Regions from separate parts of the Homo sapiens genome. Here region 2 is linked to region 1. A link means that fine-mapping ties the variant in region 1 to the expression of a gene that starts in the linked region. Tissue or cell type: whole blood. Region 1 holds a variant in brackets; the other region holds the start of a gene. All regions are shown on one strand. Distances are from middle to middle.

What was found. PIP is the estimated chance that this variant, and not a neighbour inherited with it, causes the effect.
Region 2: CD247 starts here. The variant in region 1 is fine-mapped to the expression of CD247 in whole blood (INTERVAL, PIP 0.91).

The regions. Positions count from the first base shown.
Region 1 is chr1:167,454,081-167,462,080 of GRCh38, reverse strand. The region is part of intron 1 of CD247 (CD247 molecule); the gene reads left to right. LOC101928512 (a long non-coding RNA gene) reads right to left here and starts at 7,015. Exons shown (of 4, transcript XR_007066724.1): 1 at 6,883-7,015; 2 at 4,964-5,076; 3 at 4,560-4,712. RefSeq lists silencers at 6,192-6,421, 6,762-6,851, 6,942-7,031, 7,052-7,161. The variant C/T (reference allele first, on the strand shown) is at 3,761.
Region 2 is chr1:167,514,775-167,522,920 of GRCh38, reverse strand. CD247 (CD247 molecule) reads left to right here and starts at 4,392. Exons shown (of 8, transcript NM_198053.3): 1 at 4,392-4,513. The coding sequence starts at 4,456. It also overlaps the pseudogene AKR1D1P1. RefSeq lists enhancers at 4,561-5,760, 5,032-5,995.

The DNA of each region.
Region 1 (8,000 bases):
CCATGCTAAATATTCAGCTTTCCTCCTGTGGGCATCCTATACTCTGTGAATTGGTCAGAACCAATCTTTAATCCAGCATCCTATCAGGCACACCTCCCTCCTGCTGCTGTGTGCCTGAAGAATGCAGAGTGATTTAGATATTCATTGACCTAAAGTGCAACTAAGGTTTGAGGGTGGGGGACACAAAAGGGAGGTTAATACAAGGCATCAAAAATGTACTTTGACTATTTTCTCCTTTTTTTTTTGAGCCTGTCGCCCAGGCTGGAGTGCAGTGGCGTGATCTCGGCTCACTGCAACCTCTGCCTCCCAGGTTCAAGCGATTCTCCTGCCTCAGCCTCCTGAGTAGCTGGGACTACAGGCGCCCACCACCACAGCCGGCTAATTTTTGTATTTCTGGTAAAGATGGGGTTTCACCATATTGGCCAGGGTGGTCTCGAACTCCTGATCTTGTGATCCGCCCGCCTGGGCCTCCTAAAGTGCTGGGATTACAGGCGTGAGCCACCACGCCCGGCCGACTATTTTCTCTTATTTCAAAATTACATATTCTTATACACTATGGAACTTGGAAAATAAGGGAAAGCATAAAGAAAATTTAAATCACCCATAATTTCACAAACCAGAGATGAAACCACTGCTAACAGTTGCTGTAATTTCTTCCAGTCTCTTTTCTACAGTGAGATCTGTATTTCTAGCTGGCTACACATAGTATAAATCTAGGTTTAGAATCAAGTAGAAATAGCTCTAGAGTGCTGCCGATGCTGCCATTGGCTCTGATAGTGGATCTCATTTATCCCTGGGTCCAGGTGAGAGGTCCTGAGGACCCAAATCATGGGACAACAGAGAGAAAAAGAGAAGAGGTGACATGCCTAGGGGCGGCCCGGCTGAGTTTGGAAGCCGCAAGGTGAACTCCCTCCCATGGGAGAAAGCTGCCATGGGAGGCGGCAGCCCAGCAGTCTGCCTCTCAGCCCACGATCGCCCACGTCCCCAGCATGTCCCCAGCGTGGCAGCTGCAGGCACGGCAGGCTTTGTGGGGCCTTTGATCCACGCAAAGTACGTCATAGGCGAATGCTCACAGCGCGTGGGCTGGGCACACCAAGGGTTGCCAAACTGACAAACACACCTCCAGGAAAGCCTTTTGGCTCTGGCTGGGCTTCATTCTGGCTGCCTGGACAGCATGGCCTGAATAGGAAACTTGCAAATGTGTGTGCCCTGTCCCCCTGGTGTCTCCCAGCCCAGACTCAGGAGTAACTCAGAGATAACTCCCCGAGAGTTGAACAATGAGAACACATGGACACAGGGCGGGGAACATCACACACCAGGGCCTGTCGGGGGGTCAGGGGGCTGGAGGAGGGATAGCATTAGGAGAATATCTAATGTAAATGACGACTTGATAGGTGCAGCAAACCAACATGGCACATGTATACCTATGTAACAAACCTGCACGTTGTTCACATCTAGAACTTAAAGTATAATTTTTAAAAAAAGAAGAAATAACTCGCCGAGGCCGTGGGAGTAGTTAGTAGTGGGGCATGGGGCCAGCTGAGAAGCTGGCTCTCCTTTCTGCACATTTTGGCACACAGGGCAGATTTTTCTGAAGCACAGGTATATTGCCCTTCAACATCTGAGACATACGGCTCTTGGTCATAATCTTATTTCTTTATTTTTATTTTTATTTTTTGAGACAGGGTCTCACTCTGTCACTCAGGCTGGAGTGTAGTGATGTGATCTTGGTTCACTGCAGCCTGGACCTCCTCGGGCTCAGGTGATCCTCCCACCTCAGCTTCCCGAGTAGCTGGGACTACAGGTGCGCACCACCACACCCAGATAATTTTTCTATTTTTTGTAGAGACGGGATTTCGCCATGTTGCCCAGGCTAGTCTCAAACCCCTGGGCTCAAGCCATCCTCCCACCTCAGCCTCCCAAAGTGCTGGGATTACAGGCGTGAGCCACCACACCTGGCCCATAATCTTATTTTTGTTCAAACTTTCAGAGGATTAGGGAGGGAGAGTAGAAAACACAGGAATGATGCCAGGAAACCTACCCTGGGTTCAGCCCCAAAGACAAGAATTCGGGGAAAACCTACCTGACTTGATCATTTATTCATTCATTAAACCCTTATGATTGCCCACTGCATGGTGGTTAGCTGGGGAGTGAAGAGTCAAAGAAGAATAAAACATATCCCAGGCTTTGTGGAATTCTCAATTTTTAACGGGGACAGACCTGTCACCAAATATTAGTGAAAAATGTGCCAAGAACTACAGAGCATCTGAAAAGTTAGAAATATTACCATAAACTTACTTTAAAACAGAACTTTAGCCACATTTTCAAATAATATGCTCATGTTTTTCTTCAACCTTCACACACCATTTCAGGAAGTATCTCTACATTTAAAGCGAGTCCAGTTGTTAATGTAAAAAAGGTACAAGAGGCCAGGGCACAGTGGCTCAAGCCTATAATCCCAGCACTTTGAGAGGCTAAGGCAGGCGGATGACCTGAAGTCAGGAGTTTGAGACAAGCCTGGCCAACATGGCAAAATCCTGTCTCTACTAAAAATACAAAAATTAGCCGGGTGTGGTGACGTGTGCCTGTAATCCCAGCTACTCAGGAGGCTGAGGCAGGAAAATCGCTTGAACCCGGGAGGTGGAGGTTGCAGTGGGCTGAGATCATGCCACTGCACTCCAGCCTGGGTGACAGAGCAAGACTTCATCTCAAAAAAAAAAAAAAAAAAAAAAGAGTTGTAAGGAAAAAGCCAGAGAAAGTAGTGTATTTCTTGAACCTTTAAAAAAAATTAACAATTGGACCCATTTCTTTACATTTAGAGGTACTTCACCTGAAAACATATCTAAAGGTTACAGAAAAACATATTGACTGTATTATTTGAAAATGTAACTAATATTCTGTTTAACAATAAATTCTCCCCATGATTTTTTTTTTTTTAAAATTTTTGAGACACAGTTTCACTCTGTCACCAAGGCTGGAGTGCAGTGGCTTGATCTCGGCTCACCGCAACCTCCCCCTCCCAGCTTCAAGCAATTCTTGTGCCTCAACCTCCCGAGTAGCTGGGATAACAGGCGCACGCCACAGTGCTCAGCTAACAGATTTTTTTTTTTTTGTATTTTTAGTAGAGACGGGGTTTCACCATGTTGGCCAGGCTGGTCTCGAACTCCTGGCCTCAAGTGATCCGCCTGCCTCAGCCTCCCAAAGTGCTGGGATTTACAGGCGTGAGCCATTGCTCCCAATTTCTCCATGATTCTTGACTTTTAGGTCACTCCATAGAACAGAAACAGATGCCCATTGTGAAGGTTCAGTGAGCCAAGATTGCACCACTGCACTCCAGCCTGGACAAGAGAGCAAGACCCTGTCTCAAAAAAAAAAAAAAAAAAAAAAAAAAGAAAGAAAGAAAGAAAGAAAAAAACAGATGCCCATCAAAAGGAAATGCATTTTGCTGAAAGTAGCGCAGTTTTCCCAGGGAAATAACATTTGAGCCGAGCCTTGAAAGATGAGTAAAAGTTCGTCAAGCTGAAAAATTTCATCGTAAGATGAGTCGAACACAGGGTCATTGTGAGCCGTTGGCTGGCCCCCGCAGAAACCTGGCAGCCCCTTTCAGGTGAACCTCCAGTCCATTCTTTATTCAGGCACCAGTAGGATGCTGTGCTGGGTGGCATTCCTGCCCCAGCAGGGGCTAGGCCTGAGTCACATGCAGGGCAGGGGCCTGGTCACAGCCTGGGGCCTCACCTGAGAAAGACCTGTGAGAAAACAT[C/T]CCAATCCCACTCATTCCTGCCCACACCAGGGCTAGGCACGTGGGGACAGCAGGGACGGTGAAGAGCATGTTTGGGAATGTGATGTTCTGTGGTGGCTTGTTAGGAAATCATAAGTAGCTTTCTCCTGATGACCAGCTTGAACACTGGATCGCTGAGCAGGGCACAGGTGGAAGGAATCAGAAATTACTGTATTAACACCAGTATTTTGGAGGCACAGAAACAAGGGGTGAAGCAACTTCCCTAAGGTCACGCACTTTAGGTGATAGCACTGGTGTAGGCTCCCATAAAAATGTTCTTTCAGGTCTCTTCGAACTCATAGGTTCTTGAAAATGTGAGGGGCGAAATTCCTTCATTTTATGGCATTAATGACCACTAATCAATCAATCATTCTCTCAATTATCTGAGCAATTATGTAATTACTGAGTCCTAGTGATGCCTACAACTGGGCTTCCTACAGTCCTGCAGTGGTAGAAACAAAGGAACTAGAAATCACGGTGTTTACCTTGGAGCAACCTACAATCTAGTTGCATAGGAAAGAACCCATTTGACACAATGAGAGTAACAAAAACAACGAATGCAGTTGACATTGGAATGGGCTGGAGCTTTGGGAGAAGGAATCCTTAGGGGAAGATGAAAGCTAAGAAAGGCTTGGAGACCATCAATGGAGAGGAAGGGAAAGGACAGTATCTGGATGGAGAGCTCTGGGCAATATTTAGGAAGACTCAAGAGCGCCTGCTCATGAACAGATGGACAGACAAGCGTGTGCTCCCTCCTGAACTCACAGACTTACTGGCTCACCTCACAGCAGGGCTCCCCTTCCAGGCTTTGCAGGTGATATGGTTCCTTCTCCATCCAGGATAACTCCAGTGAAGGATGGACAGAGGCAAGATTCTAGCTCCATTTTGGCTGCAATGTGTCCTTGTTCTTTTCTCCTTTGCTGGTCATTCTGGTCTGTTTGGGAATTGGACTCGTTGTCTCTGGTCAACTAACCTCTAACCCTGCCAGGGGGACTAAGCATGCTACAGAGCGCCCAGGTCCCCCACCTCCCACTTCCATATAGCCCTGAGCAAACCACTTAGAGTCTCTAAATGGCCCAGAGCAGCTTGTGGCTCCATTCCAGGAGCAAAAGCACCGCTGAGAATGTGCGGATGCAGCCTGAGACCCCCACCATGCCAGCTCCTAGCGCTAAAGCAGGCTGGTACCTCACACTGCTTTCAGAATCTTCTAAGACACTGTGGGTGTGAGGTCTTCCAGGCAGGCATCAGCACCCACCAAGCCGGTCCTCAGAAAACGACTGGAGGTAGAGAAAGCAGGGCTGGAAAGAGACAAAGAAATTCCAGGACTGTCCTCACTAGCATATTCTAAACGAAGCAGATCTTCAGGCAGCCGTGTTAGGTATGATGTCCCCGAGAGAGTACACATTAACATGACAAAGTTTGAGGAATGAACATAAGATGGCCATGCAATGTCAAAGTCATGGCTCACTTGGGTGCTTCTCTGACAGAAGAGATAGAGTGTGGCACCAGTAGTCCCTGTTGGGTTCTGTGTCTACAACAGAGAGCTTTGGGGCTGCCCTCCCTCACAGAGCAGGCTTTCTGCAAATGCTCAGGTAGGGCTGGATATATTCGTAGAATCTTCCAGACCCATCCAACCCAGAAGGTGGTGGTCCCCGAAGAGTGGTGGTGTACATGAGAAGCTGGGGGAACGTGTTACAAGGCAGACCCCTGGGCCGGCCTTCAGAGAGTCTCATTCACCTGCTCTGGAAACACTGCTAAGGACTTGGCCTCTGCTGTGAGCCAAGAGGAGGAAAGAAACCCCTCTCACTCTAGAACTACCTTTTTCTGCCTCAACCACCTTTTTTCCTGTCTTTTAAAAATTTCCAAAATTCTCTGCATCTGTAGTTTTTGTTAAGTACTTTGTCATGCCACCTGGTTAGCTCAAGCCAGAGACAATCAGGAAAAAGCTCTATCAGTGGCTGTCAACTCAGCCACTTCCCTCCGTACCGTGGTCCCTCATTCCTGCAGCTGGGTGGGAGCCAGCACAGCCCCAGGCACAGGCAGTGCCGGCATGTATTCTCGGAGCTCCACACAGGAATGTCCCACTCTAGAAGGGAAGATAAAATTTAGCGCTCTCCATGCACTGGGTATGTGTGCCAGGAAAGCCCTGAAACTTTTGCTCACAGGGCTCAAAATGAAAGCAGCTGTTGATTCCGAGAGTGGCAGGTTTGACGACATTTGGAGTCCCCCTATGTGAGAACGGAGAGACCCCTGGCGCTTCCTCCCTGCTATCTGAGGAAGGGGGAGGGGGCGGGGGGTGGGAAGGCCCAGCCTCTCAGGGTTGCGTCTCTCCGGGGCTTCCCAAGGAGGCAGCGCCGGCCCTCCCAGTCTTGCCACTGTCGCCGTGCTCGTGTGCCGGGCCAGCCGGAGCCAGGCCCGATCCTGGCCACTGTGCCCACCACCGAAGGCAGGCCCCAGGCCGGGTCCCTCTCCTTGCCTGTCTGGGGGACCCTGGTGTCGGGCTCCTTTGATATCTAAAAACCAGACCCTCGGCCCCCAGCGCCGGAGCCCGGCGCAGATCCACGCCCTGGTCTCTCAGCGCGGGGGCCTGGGGGCGGGTGCGGTTCGGGGACAAGGGACCGCAAGTGGGGGCGGGCGGCAGCGTGTGAGCAGCTCAGATGGGAGATCACGCGCGATAACCCGGGCCCTGGATGGCAGCGCTCGACAGGAAACCTCGAGCGAGGAGCCAGCTGGGGGCCGGCGGGGCGGGGCTGCTGCTCCCGTAACCGCACGGGAGCCGCGGCTGGCGGCAACACGGGGCTGGGAGCCCACCTTGGCTGCATGGTGAGGAAGGGCCGGAGGTTCCTTCCCAGGCCCAGCCTCCTCTCTGTCTTGCGGAGGGCGTCCTTCACGGGTGTGGTTTGTGACTTTGGGACGGCGGTCCCGGCCGCCTGGGCTTTGGGCGTAGTGGGAGAGCTGCCCAGCCCGCAGTGCACCCGGCGTAGCTTTGACCCGGGAGGGACCCGGCCCCAAGCCGGACGCGGGGAGGCCAGGGCGGAGAGGCGGCGTGAGCGCGGCTTAGCAGGCTGAAGCTCGTCTCTTTAAAATCCCAGCGAAATATTCACCTATAGCGTATCGGTGACGGTTTTAAAATCCAAGTGGCATTTCCTCTCCCAGCCTCCGAAAAACTCGGTGCAGTGGGCAGCGGCTCGGCGGGGCGTCCCCCTGTGCCTTGCGTCCGGGCGGGCGGCCCGCAGCGGGAGGAGCCCAGGCGCGGGCACCGAGGGGCGGAGGCCTGGCCCCGGCTCGGGGAGCTCCGGGAGGAGCTTGGGCTTGGGCTAGCCGATGGATGCACGGGTTTCTTCCGGGGAAGCTGCGGGGGCCACAGGGACTCTGAGGAGGCGCCCTCAACAGCCTGGGACCGGCAGGACGGATCCCAGAGCGAGGGCGACCAGCGAGCGAGGCAGGTGCGGCCCTCCTGGCTCCCCCTCCGCCCCTGTCCTCCCTTGCGTTGCCCAGGCAGCCTGAGCTCCCAAGGCCCAGAGGGTCTCCAGCTTACAGTTGCAGTGGGACTGATTCGGTGGATCGGAAAAGCGCTTTCATCTCACTCGGCTGCTGGTGAAAGCATCTCGTCCTTACAGCACTGGATAATAACAATAGTGATCATGCTATTTACCAGCAGTAGTTGGTTTTCTGTGTTCATATATAAATGTAACCATATTCACCAAATACCATTATCGTGAAAGTTCTGTATAGCTGAGGTCCTTCCAAACCCCGGCAAGTCATCACCAGAAATGTACTGAGCCAGGGCTGGGCGCAAAGCGCTTCGCTAAATGGGCCAGCCCCTGTTCCTCCACTTTCTGCCCTGCCAGAATCTTGCCGCACACACCTTCTTTGATGTAAGGGTTCATGTTATTTGTTTTTGTTTTGGTTGTTTAGTATTATAAATATTATATACTATCATAGTTAGAGTTCCAAACACCACAAAAAGGTGTAAGGTGGAAAATAAGTGAAATTCACCCAGCCTCCCCCTCCCGTGGCTCCTCTGCAGAAGTAACCGTGGATGACATTTTTGTGTGTGCGGCCCTCCAGATATACATATATTTTTAACGTGTTTTTTCTTGTAAAATAATATAACATTACTATTTTCATTTTTAAGTGTAATTCAGTGACATGAAGTAAGTACATTTACATTATTGTACAATCATCAGCACTATCCATTTCCAGAACATTTTCACCATCC
Region 2 (8,146 bases), 61 kb before region 1:
TTTGTATTGAGATATAATTCATATAACATAAAATGTGTCATTTTAAAGTGCATACTTCAATGGTTTTTAGTATATTCACTCTGTTGCACACCATCACCACTGTCCAATTCTAGAACATGTTCATCATCTCAAAGGAACCCTCATAGCTATTGACAGTCCCAATTCCCCACTCTCCCCATCCCCTGGCAACTACTAACCTGCTTTCTATCTCTATGAATTTGTTTATTCTGGACATTTTATATAAATGGAATCATACACTATGTAACCTTTTGTGCCTGGCTTCTTCCGCTTAGCATAATGTTTTCAAGGGTCATCCCAGTTGCAGCATGTAACAGTGCTTCATTCTTTTTGATGGCTGAGTCATATTTCATTGTTTGGATACGGCGCATTTGCTTATCCATTCCTAGTTGTGGCCATTCGAATTGTTTCCAGTTTAGGGCCACTGTGAATAATGCTGCTATGAACATTCCTTTACAAGTTTTTGTGTGAGCCTAGGTTTCCGATTCTCTTGGGTATATATCTAGGAATAGAATTGCTGGGTCACATGATACTATGTTTAACTTTTTGAGGAACTGCCAAATTATTTTTCACAAGGGCTTCACCATTTATATAACCCACAAAAATGTATGAGAATTCCAGTTTCTCCACATCCTTATCAACACTTGTATTGTCTGTTTTCTTATTTTAGCTATCCTAGTGGGTGAGAAGTGGTATCTCACTGTCGTTTTGATTTGTATTTCCCTAATGACTAATGATGTTGTACATCTTTTCATGTGCTAATTGGCCATTTGTATGTCTTCTTTGGAGAAATGTCTATTTACATCTTTGGCCAATTTTTAATTGGGTTATGTTTTTTATTGTTGAGTCATAGGGGTTATTTATATATTCTGAATCCTAGACCCTTATCAGTATATTTACAAATGTTTTCTTTCATTCTGTGGGTTGGGTTGTCTTTTCACTTTCTTCGTTCTTTCTTTTGTCTTTCTTTGTCATCATATTTCATGATTTCTTGTGAACAAAGTATTGTCTAGAGGACAAGCATTGTAAGTATTAACATCGGAATCAGTGAAAACAATCAGTATAGATCAAGTTTTTAAGTGATACTTTCTCAGAAATGTATGTGTACAGGTCATTGAAGATTATCTATAAGCAATTGGTCTTGGAAAAGCATAATTTTTGAAGAACTCTCTTGCCCTGTGAGAGTGATCTAATATGAATGAATAAAATATATTTCTGTAGTTGAACTGAAAATAGGTACATCTCTGTTGTTGAATTCTAATAATTTTATTCTCTTTAAAAATTTACATAGAGTACAATTACCAGTGTTCTTTTGAACGTGCTATTTTCTCAAAATTCACATAGCTATCCCAATAACACTCTTAAAGACTTAAGCATAGTACTTTTATAAAGCCTCTTCTTTCAATATGTCTCCTAAAGTCCCCTTATAAAATGTCTTGTTTTAAAATAGCCGTCTTTGGAATACTTTATGATGCAGAGTTTTATTTATGTATGTTGGTTGTTTCAAGCCACTTCACGTAATGGTGATTCGATGATCAATGTGGCAAGAGTGAATATAAGACAATGTAAGTATGGACCACTAGTTATGTTGAAACTCAGACCCTCTGAGGATGCAAAAGAGAACCAGCAAGTATGCATCCTTCAAGCTGAGTAAAAGCTAAACAAACATACATCGGATAGAAACAAACAACAATAAAATCCTTATGGCTTTGTTGATCACTGTGGTGTTTAATTGACTCTATTTTAAGACTTTTCTACACTTAGCCCTCTCTCCCTACTCAAGGTGCAGCAAATCACTTTTTTGTTAATAATGCATGTCTGGATCTTATCTTGGCTGTGTCTGTATTGCAGTCAATGGTTCAAGTCCTCAAGGCCACTGCCAGCACCCTGGCACATGGGGGCCCTCTGCTGTCTTTGTTGTCCTGTTGACTGCTAAAGAACTCAGGCTAACAATGTTACTACCCACATTCATGAGTTACTTGTTGCTGGTTGTCATCTGTTGCCTTTCAAGTCTTTTCTGGAATCTAATTGTTTTTTGTTTGTTTGTTTGTTTTGTTTTGTTTTTGGTCTGGAACCCAGAAGACATTTATCTAATAAAATATTAGGTGATAATTTCCTAAGAATTTCAACAGATTTAAACATTTTGTCTTTAACATGGGTGAGTTAAAATCACTTACACTATACAAAAGTTAAGCATGTTTCCATCACCACTTTTCAGATAATAAAACCTCTTTCATTTCCGTGTCCATGGGGAACTATGCACCCTAAGGTCCTCCACACGTGGGAGGGGAGAATCTGTTCAGGAACTCTCTGAAGTCAGTATTCATCAAGAAATGGGTATTTGGGATGATCACACCACATGAGCATTTCTATGAAGCGGACATTTTCACTCCAGGCTTCAATGTCCTTGATTCAGTGAGAGAAAAGTCAAAGGCCTGAAGGTTTTCCTTGATCTTTTCAGGATTAAAGCTTTTAGGAATGACAACCACCCCTTGCTGGATGTTGAAACGCAAAATAACTTGAGCTGTGATCTTATTGCACCTTTTTAGAAGTGCATCCTTTAACGAAGGCAGAGAAGACATATTTGTCCAGGTTGGATTCCTAGTGGTCCCCAAAGGGCTATATGCAATCATGACAATGTCATGTTGTTGGCGAAATTTCAAAAGTTTTGGTTGGGTGTAATATGGGTGGCACTCAACCTCGTTGCTGACTGGCTTGGGTTTGAGTCCTGGGTTGTTCTGGATGAGCTCCAGCTGGCCTGCTGTTAAAACTGGATACTCCGAGGGATTTCACCAAGCCAGCATCTTTACAAGCTTCCGAAGTCTCCCAAGTGGCACACAGATTTGACTTGTGATATAACCATTTGCCATTCTCACCTATAGGGTAGATTTTGTCTTCTGGCTTAGCGGCCATGGGTATTTCAGTGATGTAAAGATCCACACAATCTAGCTGGAGGACCTTGAGCATCCTCTCTAGGCTCGGGCAGACCAGCTCTGGGTTGTGATTTGTAGCCCACAGTTTTCCACAGTAGAAGATATCCTTCCTCTGCACCTTTCCTTCTGCTATTTTCCCCCTGATGGCCTCCCCAGCTGTGTCTTCATTTTGGTATATGTAGGCTTCATCAGTGTGTCAGCACCCCAGACCAATGACAACCTTCACTGATGAAGACTCAGACTAAATGTAGAGACAGACTACTTGGGCTGTAGTGACATCTCTACCTACCACCTACTTGCTGTGTGGCCTTGAGTAAGTCATCGGCCCCCTTAGGGGTCAATTTAGGCTCTGAGTAGGTACCAAGTCTGATGATGGGAATGCTGTTTCCATCACTTAGAGGTATGCGGTGATTTGCAGGACTCACTTTCTTCATAGTGTCCTTTGATGCACAAAAACTTTTAATTGTGATGAAGTCCAATTTATCAATTTTATGTTGGATTGCTGTGACTTTGGATTATTGGCTATTCTTGTACATTAATTTTTTTCATATCAATTTTGGAATCAGCTTAACTTGTTCTAAAACTTTTTGTTGGTATTTTCAATGAAATAGATTGATTAATTAAGAGAGAATGGTGGTCTCCTTAAAAGAGAGCTTCCTATCAAAGAAGGGTATGCCTTTCCATTTACCCAAGTCCTTTCGGCGTTCTTCAGCAATGTTTTAAAGTTTGTTTCATATAGATATATTACAATTTTTAGACGAAGTTTATGTCTAGGTTTTAATGTTTTATTATTGTAAATTACTCTGGTGTTTAAATGTTGACAACTAACACAAGTGTTTAAAATACTATGTGAGCTACAGTATTTCACACAATGATCCAAATTCAGGCCAAGTTCAGATCTGCAACCTCAGATCTACTCCAGCTCTTTGCTTTATAGATAAGGAAGCTGAAGTCTAGAGATGTTGAGTGACTGACTCAACGCCACACAGCAAGTAGGTGGTAGGCAGAGATGTCACTAAAGCCCAAGGAATCTGTCTCTACATTTGTCCTGGACTCTAATCCAGGGTTCTGTCATTTTGCCAGCCACCATAAAATATTTGACAGTCTAGGAAAACAGCAAATGTTCTTACATCCATCGAGAACTTGTATTTGCCTAGAGATGGACTTTACCAATCAAGATAGGAATTAGATAAGAATTATTTTTTTTAAAAAAAGGAGCATTAAAACAATGGTCAAATGAGAGAAAAAGCAAAATTCAGACAGACAGATACATACACACACCCCAAACCCTCAAACCTCCAGGGCTTCCTGCCTGTGAACCGAAAGGGGGAGTGCGAATTTCTTGGCCCTGTCGGCAGGTGCTTTCTCAAAGGCCCCACAGTCCTCCACTTCCTGGGGAGGTAGCTGCAGAATAAAACCAGCAGAGACTCCTTTTCTCCTAACCGTCCCGGCCACCGCTGCCTCAGCCTCTGCCTCCCAGCCTCTTTCTGAGGGAAAGGACAAGATGAAGTGGAAGGCGCTTTTCACCGCGGCCATCCTGCAGGCACAGTTGCCGATTACAGGTAGGGCCGACGTGTCGACGGCAGGGAACTTCTAGAAACTCTTTGTGTATGTGTAGGGGAGTGGGTGTGGGTAGTGGAGGGTGGTGAGGGGCTGGGGTCTCCTTCAAATCCTGCCCTCCTCAAATCAATGGGCAAGTGAGCAGTGAGGGGTCCGGCCCGGTGCTGGCATCTGCTCCGTCACAGCCGAGTTGGGCATCAGTTCAGAGCCAGCTGCTAGAATACACAGCTCCTCCAGGTACAGATTTTTCGAGTGATAAGAGAGGAAGGAAGAAGGAAGCAAGAGAGCAACCGAGGCAGGCCCAGGGTAGAGAAACGGAGAGGGAGTGTTTCACAGAAGCTGGACAGGATCGGAAAATGTCAGCCAGGCCATGTTTCGTGCTGCGACGTTCTAGTCCCTTCAGCTTCTTTCACCCTCTGGCTGGCTCCGTCACTCAGCCCCTTTCTTTCTTCCTTTGCCAACAAAGAAGATTTTGTTGGTCAGTCAAGGTCATGGCCTGAAACACTCCAATGGGCCCGGGAGTAAGTGGGGTAACCAAGGAGGAGAGGGGCACAGGCAGGAAGCACCGGGTGGCAGCCTCCACAGCGCCTTCGCCACCTCATGGCCAAGCGTCCGTGTCTAGGCTCAGCCTTGTCATGGCTGTCCCCACACCCACGCCTGGGACTGCCGGGTGACGCACCATCCCAGGCTCCGTGACTCACCCCAGCCTGCCCCTTAGGCGGCCATCTAGCCCAGCCAGAGGGCCCGGCATTGACAGAACACGGGGCAGATGAGACGATGTGCCTGGTTAAGTCACCACCACGAGCAGCGCCCAGCCAACAAGAGTGCTTGCTCCTCACCTCATTCCCGATCGTGGGAGCCCAGCTTTGCTGCAAGCCTTTAGCTTCCACCATGTTTTCTAGCCCAGGTAATGAGGAAGAAAACCAGTGAAAAGAGGACAGGACAAACTGCTCAGGGGGATCAGCCTCGTGGCATCTTCCTGAGAAGTGGGGCAGGCTGAATTTCAATCTAAAGAAACAGGGAAGGTGAAGCAAGCAAATGTCCTCGGCCCACCTGATCGCTCCTGGTAACTCACCTGGGTGTGGGAATTTGTTTAGGGGCCCTGTTGGGAGGGCAGGAGAGGCCATGGGCACTTCTGCTCCCACCAGGGAGCCAGGCACAGCCCGGGCCAGCGCCTCGGGGGATTCTGAGGCCCGTGCAGCTGCAGGGGTTTCTGTCAGGTCACAGCTGTTTTCTCAGAAAAGCCTTGTGGGGTCTAAGTCACACACACAGTGTGGCAGAGTGAGGGTGCCTGAGCTTGCTCAGAGCAGCCCATCCTTGTGTGCTGGGGACAAGGGGACCCAGAACGCTGGAATTTAGTGACTTCAGGGGAGACAGCCAGGGGCAATAGCTCCAGCCTCTGAGCTTCAGGCTTGAGACACCACACCAGGGAGCTCATATAACCTTTCAGGGTCTTTACCTGCAGTTTCCTCACTGGTCCATTTGTGTTCGGCTTGGAGAGACCAAGGTAGGGGCAAAGTGAAGTTAGAAAGAAAAATGAAAGATTGTTGGGTGGCGGTGGCTGCCAAGCGTGGTAAACAGAACCCCACCCAGCAGACAAGATGGGGGCCGTGCCTCATTTCCACAAATAGGGGGCAGGAGGAGAAAACTGCACATTGGCTGGATTTTTTGCTTCTCAGTGCCACTTACTTTGCCTCTATGGAGACTGATATTTTAGCTATTTTAGATAAAGCTAATAGACAAAAGTGTTTCAAAATATCCTAGCCCAGAAACGAGGTACGGTAAGGCAAAGCGCGACTCAGAGAGGCCTTGACACCGAGGGCTGCGATGGTGCTTTTGCTGCCTGAGGGGACACCTCCACAGTCTCCCCGGAGGAAAGGCCGCACATAGAATTTCAGTCAGGTCTTCTCTCTTTTCTTGCTCAGTTAAGTGACCCATTGCATACATCCCTTTTAAAATGTCTACTTTTTACTAAGCTGTTGCATTTGCATTTCTTTGGAAATGCCCAGATTATTAGGATCAAAGCAAATGATGACCTGGTCTGTCCACATGAGGAGGCCTCCCTGAGAGAGAATCTACCAAGACAGTCACCAGGGCTTGAGGCCAGAAGATCCTAAGATGGCGTGCCTAGTGGCATGGGCACACTTGTGCCTGCAGAGCCCTCAGTGCCTCTAACTCCCTACTCTGCAGTAGCCAAGAATGCACCCAGCGGTCAGTGTGGTGTTTGTCTTTTATCAGTGAGGAGATGGAGCTCTGACATGCAGCCTTGGGGAATGCAAAGCTTCCAGGCTTGTGAGTGGCTCTGCTTTTAGGAAGGTGGCTGGACGTGGTAGAAAGAGCCAGGCTAATTTCAGGTGGTGTCCCAGTGCTGCCGCTTCCTAGCTGTGCAACCTTAGGCAAGTTACTTAACCTCTCTGGGCCTCAGTTTTCTCACCTCTAAAGAAAGACTTGTAATACCTTCTTTGCAGAGATGTGACAATGAGAAGTAATGTAATGTGTCCAATACATAGTAGACAGCCAATAAGTAAACATTGTATTTACTATTACTATTATTACATCTCGGACTGTCTTCTTGTTCTCAAAACAGGAGATGGAAACCCATGGCTGGGATTCTTCATTTGCTTTCAATATGTTATAAAGCAGCAGTGGGCATTTTCTCCATCTGTTGCAATCCAACTCATCCCTCTTCTGATTTCTGGGCACACCCATACCAGCACAGAAACATAACAATGATTGCAGAGGTAGGCCCGATAGTGAAAAAGCAGCAAAGCTCTGGCTGGTCATAGGATGACTGTTACATCCACCATTTTCATTTTTTAAAGATACTTACTCTGTAGGGGAATATTCTCCCGAAGTAAAAACATGTCTGAAAAAATATATGCAAGATGGGGGCTGTGCCCCATTTCCACAAATAGGGGGCAGGGGGATTGGCTGGATTTTTTTACTTCTCAGTGCCACTTACTTTGCCTCTGTGGAGACTGACATTTTAGCTATCTTAGATAAGGCTCATAGACAAAAGTTTTTCAAAGTATTACTTTGAAAGGAATCAGAAACAAAATCCACCCAGTCATCACTGGTCCGGGTGGCCACCTAGATTCTGAAGCCAAAGGGCTATTGTGGGTGCACAGCGACTGAGTATCTAAATGCAAACTTCTTGAACACTAAATCTTTGCTAAAATTGCTGGGAGGTGAATGTGAGGCAAGCTTTTAAGTGATACCAGTACAAATTTTTCATCAATGGCATTTTCACCATCAGATTGTTTCGCCCTCCAATCGCCTAGCTCTGCTCATCCAAATGAGCTATTTCATTTTTCAATTTTAGCGTTTCTCAGGCTTACTAGCCTAGAGATCACATCTGCTTCTGCTAAGCATCCCCCAGAAACGGTCCTGGGGAGCTCTGGCTTAGGTGAATAACCACTGCTGTATTTAATTTTAAATTCTTTGTATTTTTGCTTTTGTTCTTTAAAAAAATACATGTAATTATTGTTGGATATATACTTTTCCAGTCAAAAGTTACCCAGCATTGTGTCTTGTGCTTTACTTAGAAGGGTCCAGTTGCCCTGAGGGAACTCTCTTAGATTAGAGTTGTCCAAACACGCACTTTGGGAATCGTTTCTCCCAAGCCTTATTTATCT